4 linked regions of the Homo sapiens genome follow. The protein of the gene in region 1 purifies or fractionates together with the protein of each later gene. This does not show direct contact. Each region holds a gene or a part of one and is shown on either strand. Other genes may lie near its edges.

Region 1 (3,500 bases):
CCTGGCAAAGTTTCTAACACAGCCAAGTAGTCTTCCCTTGGTTCACACGATGATTGCATTCTTAGAAAATTCAGTCTATGAAAAAATGCTTTGTGTTTTTGCAAAAACAACCAGATTCTGGAATTGGGTGATCATAGACAATTATTTTACCGACCTGAATGGCCCACAGGACAGTCAGAAGCTGTGTGGGACAGGAGACCAAGCTCTGTGCCAGGGCCCCCATGCAGTGCAGGATGGTAACATGCCTGGCCCCAGCCATCCAGTGCCAAGAGGCCTCTTGGCTAAGGAGACAGCCGGGAACAACCCCGCTGGTTTCTAGAGGGCTCCCCTGGAGGTGGCCCTGCCTCACTGAGAGCCACCACAGGAGACAGTCTCTAATGGTCCCCACTTCCACACATGCCACTCACAGGGCTTCCCCCCTCTTGTGTCCTTTCTTCCAGAAGACACCTGGTCTTCCAGGACGCCGTCACGGTCAAGGTGGCGCAGTGAGCAGGAGCACACACTTCACGAGTCATGGAGCTCCCTCAGTGCCTTCGACCGCTCCCACCGGGGACGCATCTCCAACACGGAGCTCCCGGGGGACATCCTGGATGAGCTCCTGCAGCAAAAGAGCAGCCGGCACAGCGACTTGCCCCCCTCCAAGAAGGGGGAGCAGCCAGGGCTGTCGAGAGGGCAGGATGGCTACTCTGGAGAGACAGACGCTGGGGGTGACTTTAAAATCCCCGTCTTGCCTTATGGACAGCGCTTGGTCATTGACATCAAGTCTACCTGGGGGGACAGACACTATGTCGGCCTCAACGGAATAGAAATATTCAGTTCCAAGGGTGAACCGGTGCAGATTTCAAACATAAAAGCAGACCCTCCCGATATCAATATTTTACCAGCCTATGGGAAAGACCCCCGCGTGGTCACCAACCTCATCGACGGGGTGAACAGGACCCAGGATGACATGCATGTCTGGCTGGCCCCCTTCACGCGGGGCAGATCCCACTCCATCACCATTGACTTCACGCACCCTTGCCACGTTGCCCTGATCAGAATTTGGAACTACAATAAATCTCGGATACATTCCTTCCGAGGCGTGAAGGACATCACAATGCTGTTAGACACCCAGTGCATCTTTGAAGGAGAAATCGCCAAGGCCTCTGGAACCCTGGCGGGAGGTATGGCGTGTCTGTAAGAATTTTCTCAGAGCCCCTATCTGTGACTTGCTGAGAGTCTATGGGAAAAAACAGACCAGCTGGCTAGCCAACAACAGATCAGTCCTTTCTCTTTCTTTTTTTTTTTTTTTTTTGAGACGGAGTCTTGCTCTGTCCCCCAGGCTGGAGTGCAGTGGCGCGATCTTGGCTCACTGCAAGATCCGCCTCCCGGGTTCACGCCATTCTCCTGCCTCAGCCTCACGAGTAGCTGGGACTACAGGCACCCGCCAACACGCCCGGCTAATTTTTTGTATTTTTTTTTTTTTTTTTTAGTAGAGACAGGGTTTCACCATGTTAGCCAGGATGGTCTCGATCTCCTGACCTCATGATCTGCCCGTCTCGGCCTCCCAAAGTGTTGGAATTACAGGCGTGAGCCACCGCGCCCAGCCCTTTTTTTTTTTTTTTTTTTTTTTGGGTGGGGAGACAGGATCTTGCCCTGCACAGTGGCATGGTTTCGGCTCACTGCAGCTTCGACCTCCTGGGCTCAAGCAATCCTCCCACATCAGCCTCCTAAGTAGCTGGGACTACAGGTGCACCAACCCACCTGGCTAATTTTTGTATTTTTTGTAGAGACGAGGTTTCACCATGTTACCCAGGCTGGTCTCGAACTCCTGGGCTCAAGTGATCCACCCACCTTGGCCTCCCAAAGTGCTAGGATTACAGGCATGAGCCCCTGCACCCAGCCACAGACCCGGTCCACTCATCCCCTCTTACAGCATGAGTGTGCTAGGCCTGACCTCATTCAGCATCTCCCATAAAGCACCTGTCTTGGTCCGGCCCCTAGAACCTGAGTCTGAGATGGGGCATTCTTTGGCAAGTGACTTATGGAGGGAGTGCTCCTAGGAGAAACCTGGCATAGTGAAGCAAGGATATAGTTTCCAGGAAGCCCAGCCACAACCAGATCTTGAGGGAGGTCTGGAACATAAATTTCAGGTCTTTCCTGCCTGAAGGTGAAGGAGCAGGGCGTTAGAACCCCACCTACCAGGCAGTCATTGGAACCAAGGCTTGCCGGGTTGGAGCTGTAACTCCCACACCCTTCCAGGCAAGGCACTCTGAGAAAAGGATCCACCAAGATCTGGGTGGGGTACCAACAGCGTCTTGCATAGTGCCTTGCCCACCCCAAAGAAATGTCACTTGCCTGATGACATATCACAGTGATTCTCATGAAATTAGATCCCTTCCTTAGATCCATGTGATGCTTATGGTCCGTGCATTCCATTTGCAAATCTGTGAAGACTAATAAGGCTCACACTAATCAATACCAGTTAAGGGTGTGGGGTTGTACAGCACAGAAGTGGATGGGTTTAGGCTCTTGATCTACAAATCTCTGGGATGTGAAGTGAGTTGACCTTTCTGTCATCTTGATAACCCATTAGCCCCAGAGCACTTTGGAGACACGATCTTATTCACAACCGATGATGACATTCTCGAGGCCATATTCTATTCTGATGAGATGTTTGACCTGGATGTGGGGAGCCTGGACAGCCTGCAGGATGAAGAGGCAATGAGGAGGCCCAGCACGGCCGACGGCGAGGGGGATGAGCGGCCCTTCACCCAGGCTGGCTTGGGGGCTGATGAACGGGTAGGACTGGAGCTGGGGGGCTGTGGGGGGACCCCCAGATAGGTTTCTTCCCCTAACTCAGAGTAGAGCAGGGAGAATTAAGATGGATATCCTTTAAGCTGCTGGTGCCACTGTGTTGACATTTCCCATCTTTCTACTTTGTTTTTTTGTCCTCTATGTCATATTTCATTCTCTAATTATTTTTATTTTTTTATTTTTTTTTAACCGAAGTAAAGAAAGTATTCAAATTCTAATCAAAGCCAGGAGAAATGAGCTCTGTGTCATCTCTGCAATTCAGAGGTTGGCAGTCTGGGGGGAGTTTTTGCTTGGGGTTGCGTTTTGATCATTCACTGTTGTTTTTGATGGAAGGACTAGGAATGCTTTTCATAGGCAGAGTTACAGTTAAAATAATGATCATCACAGCCATGGTTTCATGAACACATATCATGATCCAAGCAGGGTACACAGTGTTCTTGTTTCACCCTCATGACAACCCTCTGAGTAGAGACTATTAACATTGCCATTTCGGAAACTGATGCTCAGAGAAGTCAAGTGACTTGCCCAAGGGCACATTGTGACAGAGAAACAAGGGTAGAACTTGAATGCGTGATTCCACAGTTTATGCTTTTAATTGGTAAGCAACTTATTATTTTTTTATTTTGTTTAGAGATAGGGCCTGGCACTGTCGCCCAGGCTGGAGTACACTAGCGTGATCATAGCTCATTGCAGCTCAAACTCCC
Region 2 (3,779 bases), on another chromosome or scaffold:
AACACGCTTGGCACTACATAAGGCACTTAATCATTACCTCATCTGATCCAAACAGGACTGTCCCCACTTTACAGATGATAAAGTAGGCCCCAGAGAGGGCACTAACTTGCCCAGGGTCTCGCAGCTGCTGGGCCCATCTGCCTGACACCAAAGCCTGAGCCTCCCATGCTGCCCCAGAAAGAGCTGAACCTGATCCAGGGCCCCCAGTGGAGTGAGAGGCAGCTCTGTGGCCCTCAGGGATCTCGAGTTGATATACCCTACCTGAGGAACTGCTTCAGAGGCCTGGATGGGGACAGCAATGGCCAGGGTCCCTTGGAACCAACTCTGAAAGTGGAAGGACCCTGAGTGATGTCCTGGTCCACACTCCCACCATTTTACGAATGGAAAAACCAGGACCAGATCAGAACCCAGGCTTCTCCAGGGCCCTCCCACTGCACTGGAGGCTGGGGGCAGGTGAGCAGGCCCCGTCAGGCTGGTGAGACACACACAGGGCTGCTCTGTGGCATTCAGAGAGCACGTTTATTTACAAAGCGCTTTACAAACATCAGCTTATGCCTCCCCACAGCCCCCTGCGAGGTAGGTCAGTAGTCATATCTACAGTTTACAGATGGGGAAATTGAGGCACGGAATGGGGGTGTGGCCTGCCCCATTTTAAAGAGACCTTCCCACCCACCCAACCAAAAATAACAAAAGAAACAAAAAAGCACTGGTCCTACCTCTTCCTCTGAACTCCAGAGGGTATGACCAGCCCTGCTCTAACACTGCCCCTCCCCACAACGGGCAGCCTGACCAGGAGCCACAGGGGCCTCAACCCCAGGGGCTGTTGTTCAGCCTTGCAGATTGTCACTGGCCCAAGCTGAGCAGGACAGGCCAGTGAGGCCTGAAGATTAAAGGAAGAGGGGGGCGAGGTGACTTCATTCTGCAACAGTGGGTCAGGCAGGGAAGGAGCCCCCCATGGGGCACAGCAGTAATAGGCAGATCCTGGTTCAGGGAAGCTCAGAGCACATATCAGGGAAGCAAGTGGGGAGGGATAGTGAGCAAAATATCTCAGGGGCTGCAGGGGGCAGTGGGGAGGAGGGCGCTGCAGTTCCCCTGGGGAGGACAGTCAGTGTGCCCCACTGGCTATTCAGAATTGAGACCTGCTTCCCCAGGACCTTCAGGGGCTGGGCCAGATGGAATCCTAAATGCCAAGTCCCAGTACATCCTCTACCCACATGCAGAGGGGGCAGGCTGAGTGGGAACCTTGGCCTGGGATGCTCTCTGCAGGGCCTCACTCATCCCTGCCAAAAGCCAGGATGGTGCCAAGGGGCTTGGCCTGAGTCCCCCAGAGCCAGCCGTCCTGAGCCTTTGTCACTCTGCCAGGCAGCACCAGGCCTCTCAGCACAGGCCTGCAGGACCCTATGGAGGTGGGGCTGGGCTGCAGACTTGCTAAGCTCCTCCTTGGCCCACCACCCGCCCATGGGACAAGCGAAAGGCCCTGCCCACAGTGGAAGGGGGAGCAAGATAGCCCAGCATCCACTCCAGTGCTTGCCCCATGGGAGTGTGTTTGGGCAGAGCAGGAGGCACTGATCTTCCTCGCCAGTCCAGGATGGTGGGTCTGGCCCTGAGTGTGCAGTGGGTGCCCCAGGCCAGGGCCCCGCTATCTTGACTCCAGCCCCTCCAAGTACTCCAGGGCCACATCGTAGCAAAAGTGGTACTGATCCTGGGGAGAGGAAGAGAGGGAGGGAATCATGAGCCTGACCCCAACTCCAGTATTGTGGGGGGAGGGGAACGGGGAGTGAGAGGGCAAGCACGAGCCCGAGCCCAGGCCCGCCCTCGGGGAGAAGGGAGAAATGGGGGTAATGTTTTAGGACCACAGGGCTAGAACCAAGGCCCAGTGGTGGGGCCCAGATATGGGAGAGTGGGTGCTAAGGAACCTGGCCTGGCATGGACCAGGAAGGTGGAAGTGGCTGGGCACGGGACACAGCCCCTCACCATGGTCTCCACCATGTTGGGTTTGTAGTTCCGGAGGGTTTTGGCAGCAAAGAAAACGTCCACCAAGTTGTGGCAGCGGATCATCTCCAGGACCGTGGCGCAGGCGCAGAAGGTGCCGCTGCGTCCTCCCCCGTTTCTGAATGAGAGATGCAAAAGCTGAGGGGCGGGGCCTTGGAACCTGAAGGTAAGAAAAGGGCCAGGGAACCACGAGGGAGGGGCAGAGAGCCTAGAGGAGAGGGACGGAGCTAGGGAATCTAGAAGGGTGGGGCAGAGAGCCCAGAGGTGAGGGGCGGAGTTAGAGAACACAGAAAGGAGGGGCCCGAGAGCCTAGAGGAGAGGGGCGGAGCTAGGGAACCCAGAAGGAAGAGGCCAAAGAGCCCAGAGATGAGGGGCAGAGCTAGGAAACCCAGAAAGGAGGGGCCAAAGAGTCCAGAGGTGAGGGGCGGGGCTAGGAAACTAAGGAGGGCCAAAGAGCCCAAGGTGAGGGGCAGAACTAGGGAACTCAGAAGGGCGGGGCAGAGGACCCAGAGGTAAGGGGCGGGGCTAGGGAACCCAGAGGGAGGAGCAGGACCAGGTTAAGAAGGATCAGAGGCTAAGACATCTCAGAAGACATATTCTCAAGGCGAAACAGACTGCGGATTCTGAGAGAAAGGAGGCCAGACACACTCCAAGAGAAACACCCGGAGAGACAAAGACAGTGACAAAGAAGGGCGGAGGAGCAGCAAGCGCGTACCCAGAGAGCAAGGTGGAACAGGAATGCTGAGAAGACTGGTCACCACCTGGCATCGTGGGCACACAGGCACAAACGTACCCAAACCCCAAGTCAAACCCACAGCCTCCCACAGAGCTCCATCCCCTCCGTGCCTCTCCCTCCTTCCCTGTGACTCCACGTGTGGGGTGCCTCCTGGGGAATGGCAGACTGATGCGGCCCTCACTCCCCTTCTCAGGGGTCTTTCCCACCAGAACCAAAACCCCTGGGGGCCAGACCCGGACTGACTCAGCTCCGCACCAGCTTCCAGTAGGCCCAGCCTGCCACTCGAAAGGCTCAGTAAATGCTGAAAGCATGAAAAAGTGGGGAGCAAAGGAGTGACTGCACCCAGACATGAGTGAATACATGAACTTATGAATGGGGCATGCAGATGGATGGATGGATGGATGGGTGGATGGATGGATGGATGGAAAAAGTCACATGTGTGCATGCATGAACAAAGACTGGAATTCTATTGGCATAAAAGTGTGCCACAATCTCATGGGGTAAAAAATTCTGACCAAGGACTCTAATTAAATTGGCAAAGTCAGACATCACACAGAGGATACTGGGCAGTTGTTCAGGGCTGAGTCTATAGCCTGGAAACTCACTGGATTCCTCCAGGGCCAGCCTTGGCTGGTTGGGCAGCATCCTGGCCACAGCCATCTAAGAGCCCAGGGGTTTCGGTGCCAGCTTTGCAGTCCAGCCAAAGCTGGCACCCTTTCAGACTGGACCTCTGCCCCTGGCTCCCCAACCCCTCCACCCGCCCTCCCACAGGGCAGGTACTCACAGGCAGTGCACGATGGTGCGCCCATCCCCACTCTCGGCCTGCCACTTGTCCACCTCAGCCAGCAGGTGCAAGAAGGCCTTCTTGGAGTCAGGTGTGTCCCGGTATGCAGACCAGCGCAGGAACTGGAAGTGCCGCACCAGCAGGTGCCCCTCCTGCAACTGGGGACAGGGGCAGCCAGCCAGGGAGGACATGAGCACCAGGGTCCCAGGGGCCCCTGATGACACAGAGGGTCATTAAAAGCTGCCCCAGCCACCACCCAGGGTCCTT
Region 3 (2,573 bases), on another chromosome or scaffold:
AAAAAAAAAAAAAAAAAAAAAAAAGGTCTAGCAACTCTGGGTGACTTCGGTAAGGAGGTACTCCTGACCATCTGAGGAAGGCCTAAGGTCTGGCAGCCGGTGAGAGTTTGGGGGTTGGAAAATTCGGAGCAAGGCAGAGAGGTGTAGGGCTTGTTGGCAGCACCAGGGGGCAGCACTTGTTCACTGCCTCCCTGGAACCAGGTCCCAGAAAGCTGTGTATGCAGCCAACACACCTGAAGGCCATGGAGGTGCTGTCCCTCAACAGCCTGCGCACTGACTGCCTGCTCCAGGTCCAAGCTTGGGACCTCCCCTTGGGCACCTTTGTGGAGGGCCCATTGTCTTTGGATGGCTTGGTGTGGACTCAGCCCCGTGCTGTGCCAGCACTTCTGCAACTTTGTCCATCCTTTTCCCTTTAACCATGGACAGGATTGTCGCAAATTTGGGGATTTGCTCCTTCAGCTAAGCCTTCCCACTTGAGAAACCATCCCAGAAACAGTCTGTAGGTTGTTTATATCAAGTCCTTTTATTCTGATACCACAGAATTACCTTGTCACAATACAGGGGGAGGGACACTGAAGTACCACGAGTTCTCACAGAGCACAGAAGGACAGCACACAATTCACAAGGTCATGTGGAGGACTCGGGTCATTGCACTTACAACTGTAAACTTGTTTGTTTGACTTTGTACAGCACTCTTCCCCCCTCAAATAAAGAAGGAGAGAAGGAAAGAAAGGGAGAGAGGGAGGAGGAAGGGGAAAGCAAAAACAAGACATGAAAGCTAGAGGAAAAGGTATTGAGTGGCCACCACTCTCCAGGGTAGTGCACTTGGAGAGAAGGAGCTGATTTGACCCCAGAAACTGAATGAGGCAGAAACACACACACACACACACACGCACGCACGCACGCACATACACACATGATCATGTGCATACACATACAATATCTCACGACTGCCATGGCTCTCCAGTGCCACCCCAGTGCACATGGCAGCAGGGCTGCTGGCACCCAGGGAGACAGAGATGGCATCTCCGAGGAGTTTCAGTTGATTAGGCCTGTCCCTCTAACCCTGTTGGAGTCCATGATGACAAGTATTTACAGCATGGGGGTGGGTAAGAGGAGAGCAGACGGGACAACAGGGCAGGACCATGCTGTCCTGGCAAAGGACCTGCCTGGAAAACTCCCTACAGGCTCCAGAAGGCAAGGCATAGTTGCCACCACTGCTGTTCTTTCACTGTGGGCCCTCAGACCACATGCTCTGCCCAAGGATTGTAGGGGAGGGCTGTCACTGTGAAGTGAGTGCACTGGGCCCTGAAGTGAGCAGAGAGAGGAGGCAATGCCCTTGCTCATGATGCTGGGGAGAGGGGTATGGAGAAGGCCTGGGCTGCATGCTAGAGACTCCTTGCCCATTTGGAGATGTGTCTGTTGCTCTCTACTTTCCAAGGCACCAAGTGCTGGTCCCTCAGCTTCTGGCTGCATTGTCCCCAGAGTCACAACTGCATCCATGCAAGGGCCAGGAAGGACAGTCCATGGACCAGAGGCCTGCTCCAGCCACCTTCACAGAGGGGCGATGATGTATCCTGTGGGTACAGTGGGGGATGAGGAGTGGCAGATGTCAGAATTTCAAACTCAGAGGGCTTGGCCAGAAAGGAAATTTGCTGAAAAGTCAGTACTTTAGAGCCTGAGACTAGGCCTGCTGGAGGCTGACCTCCTAACATTTCCCTGCCTGTTCCCTACTTCTTGTCCCATCCCCTGGCCTGTAGTGGAAAGGACTATTGCCTTGGTCTCCAAGGCACATCCCCACACAGACCTGGTCCTGGGTGGCCAGAGGTGTTAGGTGATGGCTTCCCTCAGCCCTTGCTCAGATGGCTGCATTCAGCCCATACCTGATCTTTGGGATGAGGCAGGTATTCCATGGGTGGGGTGAGGCCAAGTCCCAGAAAGGCAAGGGTGTTAAGTCCAACACAAAGGTTGGCAGCTTCCTGTCCCATCCATAGCTACCAGAGGTGAGCGAGGAGCCCTCTCTGAAGGGGTGTGTAGATCTTATAGAAAAGCATGAGAAATGCGGACCCCTGAGAAATGCATGGTGCAAACCAGAGCACTCTGGACGAAGGTCAGGCCTTGAAGGGTCAGGCAGGTACTGCCTGCCGCACTCCTGGCTCAATGGTAAAAAAGCTGATGAGCAGCGGGACGCTTGGGCTTTGGAGAAGGGGGTGAGCAGGGAGCATAGGTCCTGGGGACAGATGCAGAGAGGGTCACACAGGACCTTCTGTAAGATTTGCTATTGAGAAACTTCACAAGAAACTTAGCTTGAAGCCACTGTTTATATGAACAGTTCCAGATGACCACTGTCAACTGTTCTCACCACAAGTGCCAAAGGCCCAGCTCTTCCTGAGCATCCATTGACCCCCTAGCTCCAGCCCAGATCTCCTGGCTCACAGTCCTTTGAGCCTCCTAGCCACAGAGGAGAGGCATGAAACAGGTGCAGTCAAGAGCTGGGGTCCCTCGGGCACAGCCTGGCTCTGCTCTTGCCTCTGCCTCTCTGGCTGTGGATGCCGCCCAGCTCTGCCCTTGCG
Region 4 (4,110 bases), on another chromosome or scaffold:
GGCACATGCAGACGGGTGAATAATGCATTTTCCACAATTTCACAGAATCCAAGGCTCTGTGCTTTGTAAGACCTCACTGGGTTATCTTTTCCTGCCCGTGGGCAAGTCCACTATTGTATCAAGATCAATTTCCTCCTGTATGTATGGCCTCCAAGGACCAGCATCCTGCACTTCCATGGTCTCCTGGTGCAGGGTTTTGTACCTTTCTACCAAAACATCTTTCATTTTGTTGATCCTAAATCTCTCCTTTTGGTATCTCCCTGGAAGAGTCGGGAAGGAGGCAGGGTGAGGGTGGGGGGACAGGAGTGTCCTTACTGCATCATACAGACACTTGAGGAACTTGATTTCTTTGTCCAGTGAGTCCACTTTGGCCTGAAGCTCCACCTTGACTGCGTAGGCTGCATCTGCATCCTGCCAAGAGGCCCCAGAGTCATTGGGGGATGCAACCCTCATCCCACAGCTGCCCTGCCCAACTCCTGCCTCAAAGCCACCTGATTTTCTATTTTCTACCCACAAAGGAAAGCTCACTCAATATCAATTTCTTCTCAGGCTGCCTGAAGCTTTGGGAATAGGGAAAGGAGGATGGGGCAGCTCTGTTATGCCTGGAGAAAACAAAGCCCAGAGAGGTAGTAGGTTTCCTCAGGTCACACAGCAAGGTTGAGCTGGACCCGAGTTTCACAGTTCCCAGACCAGAATTCTGTCTGTCTCTGTCCATTTCCTGAGTGTGTGTCTTTCCTCTCCAACTCACTGGAGGCCAGGACTATGACTCCACCCTCACCAGGCACCAGCCCCCTCACCAGGCACCAGCCCCCTCCCCAGCCTCCTGGGCTGAAGTCCTGAGCAGAGTTGTTAAGATGGGGGTGCGAGAGACCCTAATAAGGAGGCTCCTCCCTCTCTTACCTTCTTAAGCACCACAAACTCATTCTCTGCTGTCGTGCGCCGGTTAATCTCCACTTCATATCTGCCAGCAGGGAGAGTAGATGGCCTTAGCCCCCTTAGCCAAGGAACTTTCTCTTCCTGCTGGCCAGGCAAATGTTTGGGATACAGGGTCCCTGCAGGGTCTCTGGGGTGAGCAGTAAGAGGCTAGTGACAGGAGTAAGATATCCCTGAGTTGCTTCACTTGTCTCCTAGTTTTTGCATGTTAGGAAAACACCCAGGTGCCTATTGGGCTCCCGACACCAGCAACTGAACATTTCAGTGGGTCAAGGAGCACAGGAACCGCTTCCTATCAACTAGGCAGGAAGTTATCATCAAAGAGGATAGGCCCTTCCCCCTAGCCAGAGAAAGGGATGTGAGCTCCTGACCCTGGTGCATACTCCCCCATCTCCTAAAAAATAATGGCACAGAGATCAGGTGAGCCCAGAGGCACGGGAAACATGGTCTGTGACCCTCGGGTGGAGCCTGCTCACCTCTTCTTATAGTCCTCCACCAGATCCCTCATGCTTCTCAGCTCCGAGTCCAGCCTCACCCTGTCCCCAGACAGTGTCTCCAGCTGCTTCCGCAGGTTGCTGATGTAGCCCTCAAGGATGGGCTCCAGGTTCTTCTTGCAGTTGTTCAGGTCCAGCTGCTGCAGCAGCTCCCACTTGGTTTCTAGAACCTGGTTCTGCTGCTCTAGGAAGCGTACCTGGAACCCAAATCAACAGACACCTGGAACCACAATGGGTGCAGTCATGCCCCCTGGACACACACCATTGACTCCCCAGGTTTGCCATAGATTGTTGTAGTCATTTTTGCTCATGTCTTGACTCTCCACCCTTGCCATTCCACACAAACTAGATCCTTTACAAGTGCTCATTTCCTAGCCTTCTGGACAAGGCATCACTGAGAACTCACTCAAGGAGTTTCCACAGCTTTCTTCTATTGCTCGGCCCTGGTCCCAGGAGATGTCCTTCCTTATGTCTCAACTAAGTGTCTCTTCCTGTACCATGAGCCCTTCCCTCTGAACACTGCTGGATTCTATTAGCCTTTCATGTTCTTGGAAGATCCAGCTGTCCTCAAGAAACTCATCACTTTTTTGTCAAGGAAGGGCTGCTCTTTACCCAGCTTCCCATCCTTCCCTGCAAAATCGCCAAAGAAGCCGATATATTCATGTATTCCTTTGTCCTCCGTGGCTCACAGACCTACTCTCCTTCCCTAATGGTGAGGAAGCCCTTCCTGAGGCCCAGCTGCACCTTTCCAGCCACAGTGTGCAGTCCATTCCCAGGCAGCAGGAAAACTGCTCAGGCCTCAGGGTGCGGCCTCATCCTCCTCCTATGAGACCCACCTTGTCAATGAAGGAGGCGAACTTGTCGTTCAGCACCTTGATCTGTTCCCGCTCCTGGGCGCGCACCTTCTGGATCTCAGGGTCCAGCTCCACGTTGAGGGGGGCCAAGAGGCTCTTGTTGACAGTGACCTGGTGGATGCCCCCAGGTGGGCACACAGACAAACATGCAGGCCCCAGGGCCACACTGCCAAACATACTGCCAGCAAAGCCACTGGCCCGGCCCCCTCCATACCCAGAGCCAGGCCTGAAGCCGTAACCTCCAGCCCGAACGCCGCCACCAGCCACATTGAAAGAAATACGCCGATTCCCTCCAAGGCTATAGAGGCTCCGACTGCCAAAGCCAGCGCCAGCCCCTCTGCCAGCTGCACAGTAAGAAGCCAGGCTACCCACAGCCTTCCTTGGCACCACTGCCGAATGCACACTGAAGTTGCCCTTGTCACCACTGGACTTGATGTTCAGTTGCCGACTCATGGTGGGAAAGGTTGAGTTGACAGAGCTGGAGAAAAGCAGTCTCCAAGGGGTAGAGAACACACTGATGGGGCACCCAGAGTGCTGCCTCCTTTTATCCCTGTTGAGCCCAGGACACCGGAAAAGGGCGTCTCTCCACTATCTCCTTTCCCCTGCTGATGGGCCAGGGGCCATGGGCAATTTGTAGAACAGAGATCTCCAAGCCCTTTGCAGCAACAAAGCTCTTCTGATAGCAAGTGGAATATGCTGCCCTTGCAGAGTGGAGTGGTCTAATTTGGAGTTTATCTGTGCTCCCTAATTAAGGACCTGAAGAGTTATCCCCTGAAGAGATCTCCTAGCTTTATTTTTCCAGTGCTACCTCCTTCTTGCTTAACCATCAGCAAGGAGCAGGGGAAATGCCTGGCTTTCCCCAGAGTAGACTCACCTGAAAAACCCCAGGTTTCTTCCCAAAAGAAACCATCTCTCTATTATAGGGTCTTGTGTGGAAGCTGGAATTTTTACCTCAGGGAAAAGAAGACATGGAAAGATGATTCTTCTTGGAAAGATGTCCTCAAAGATCTGGATCTGGGTAAGAAGCTCCAGGGTCCGTCCTTGGGCCATGCTAAGGACCACAGCTGTCTAGCAGTGAAGTGGACCCCAGGAAGGAAGAGGAATGACTCTGCAGCATCTGCATGCCCCCCTAGCAGGGATATTGTCTAGGGCCTTCTGTGTTGGGCAGGGCCTGGGTGGTGGTGACCTTGACATTGCCTTACAACCATGAGAACCTTTCCAGTCAGCTGCATTTCCTCCAGTTGGATTTTCTCTCCTGGATAAGATTATTTGTCCTACTCTAGGAAGTCAGGCAGGAGCTGGGATATTAGCCCCTGCACTCCCTGGGGAAACACCCTATGGCTGAAGTCACCAAGGAACAGGACCCCCTGAGTTTCACTCCCAGGTTCAGGGTGGGCTGTTCTGCCAGTTTCCTGGCAACTTCAGGGAGCACTCAATTTTCAAACAGGAAGTATCACTGCTTTATAGCTCAGGTAGTGTGGGTACAGTGCAATGTTAAAAAATTATTTCAGGGCTGGGCATGGTGGCTCACACCTGTAATCCCAGCACTTTGGGAGGCCAAGGAGGGCAGATTGCCTGAGGTCAGGAGTTTGAGTCCAGCCTGGCTAACATGGTGAAACCCCGCCTCTACTAAAAATACAAAAATCAGCCGAGCGCAGTGGTGCATGCCTGTAGTCGCAGCTACTCAAAAGACTGAAGTAGAAGAATCACTTGAACCTGGGAGGCAGAGGTTGCAGTGAGCCTAGATTGTGCCACTGCACTCCAGCCTGGGCAACAGAGCAAGACTCTGTCTCCAAAAAACAAAAAAAATTATTTCAAAGCTAGGTATC

What was found.
Region 2: the proteins of KATNIP (region 1) and PTPRU purify together in Homo sapiens (tandem affinity purification; one large-scale study listed by IntAct). This does not show direct contact.
Region 3: the proteins of KATNIP (region 1) and BSN purify together in Homo sapiens (tandem affinity purification; one large-scale study listed by IntAct). This does not show direct contact.
Region 4: the proteins of KATNIP (region 1) and KRT74 purify together in Homo sapiens (tandem affinity purification; one large-scale study listed by IntAct). This does not show direct contact.

What each region holds. Positions count from the first base shown.
Region 1 is NC_000016.10:27,749,144-27,752,643, forward strand, and holds part of KATNIP (katanin-interacting protein), read left to right. Parts: intron 1-440; coding exon 441-1,163; intron 1,164-2,575; coding exon 2,576-2,781; intron 2,782-3,500. UniProt on the Homo sapiens protein: May influence the stability of microtubules (MT), possibly through interaction with the MT-severing katanin complex.
Region 2 is NC_000001.11:29,323,522-29,327,300, reverse strand, and holds the end of PTPRU (receptor-type tyrosine-protein phosphatase U isoform 1 precursor), read right to left. Parts: intron 3,671-3,779; coding exon 3,513-3,670; intron 2,111-3,512; coding exon 1,975-2,110; intron 1,703-1,974; coding exon 1,640-1,702; 3' UTR 501-1,639; downstream 1-500.
Region 3 is NC_000003.12:49,669,477-49,672,049, reverse strand, and holds the end of BSN (protein bassoon), read right to left. Parts: 3' UTR 501-2,573; downstream 1-500. UniProt on the Homo sapiens protein: Scaffold protein of the presynaptic cytomatrix at the active zone (CAZ) which is the place in the synapse where neurotransmitter is released.
Region 4 is NC_000012.12:52,571,044-52,575,153, forward strand, and holds the start of KRT74 (keratin, type II cytoskeletal 74), read right to left. Parts: upstream 2,801-4,110; 5' UTR 2,735-2,800; coding exon 2,264-2,734; intron 1,625-2,263; coding exon 1,410-1,624; intron 962-1,409; coding exon 901-961; intron 412-900; coding exon 316-411; intron 1-315. UniProt on the Homo sapiens protein: Has a role in hair formation. Specific component of keratin intermediate filaments in the inner root sheath (IRS) of the hair follicle.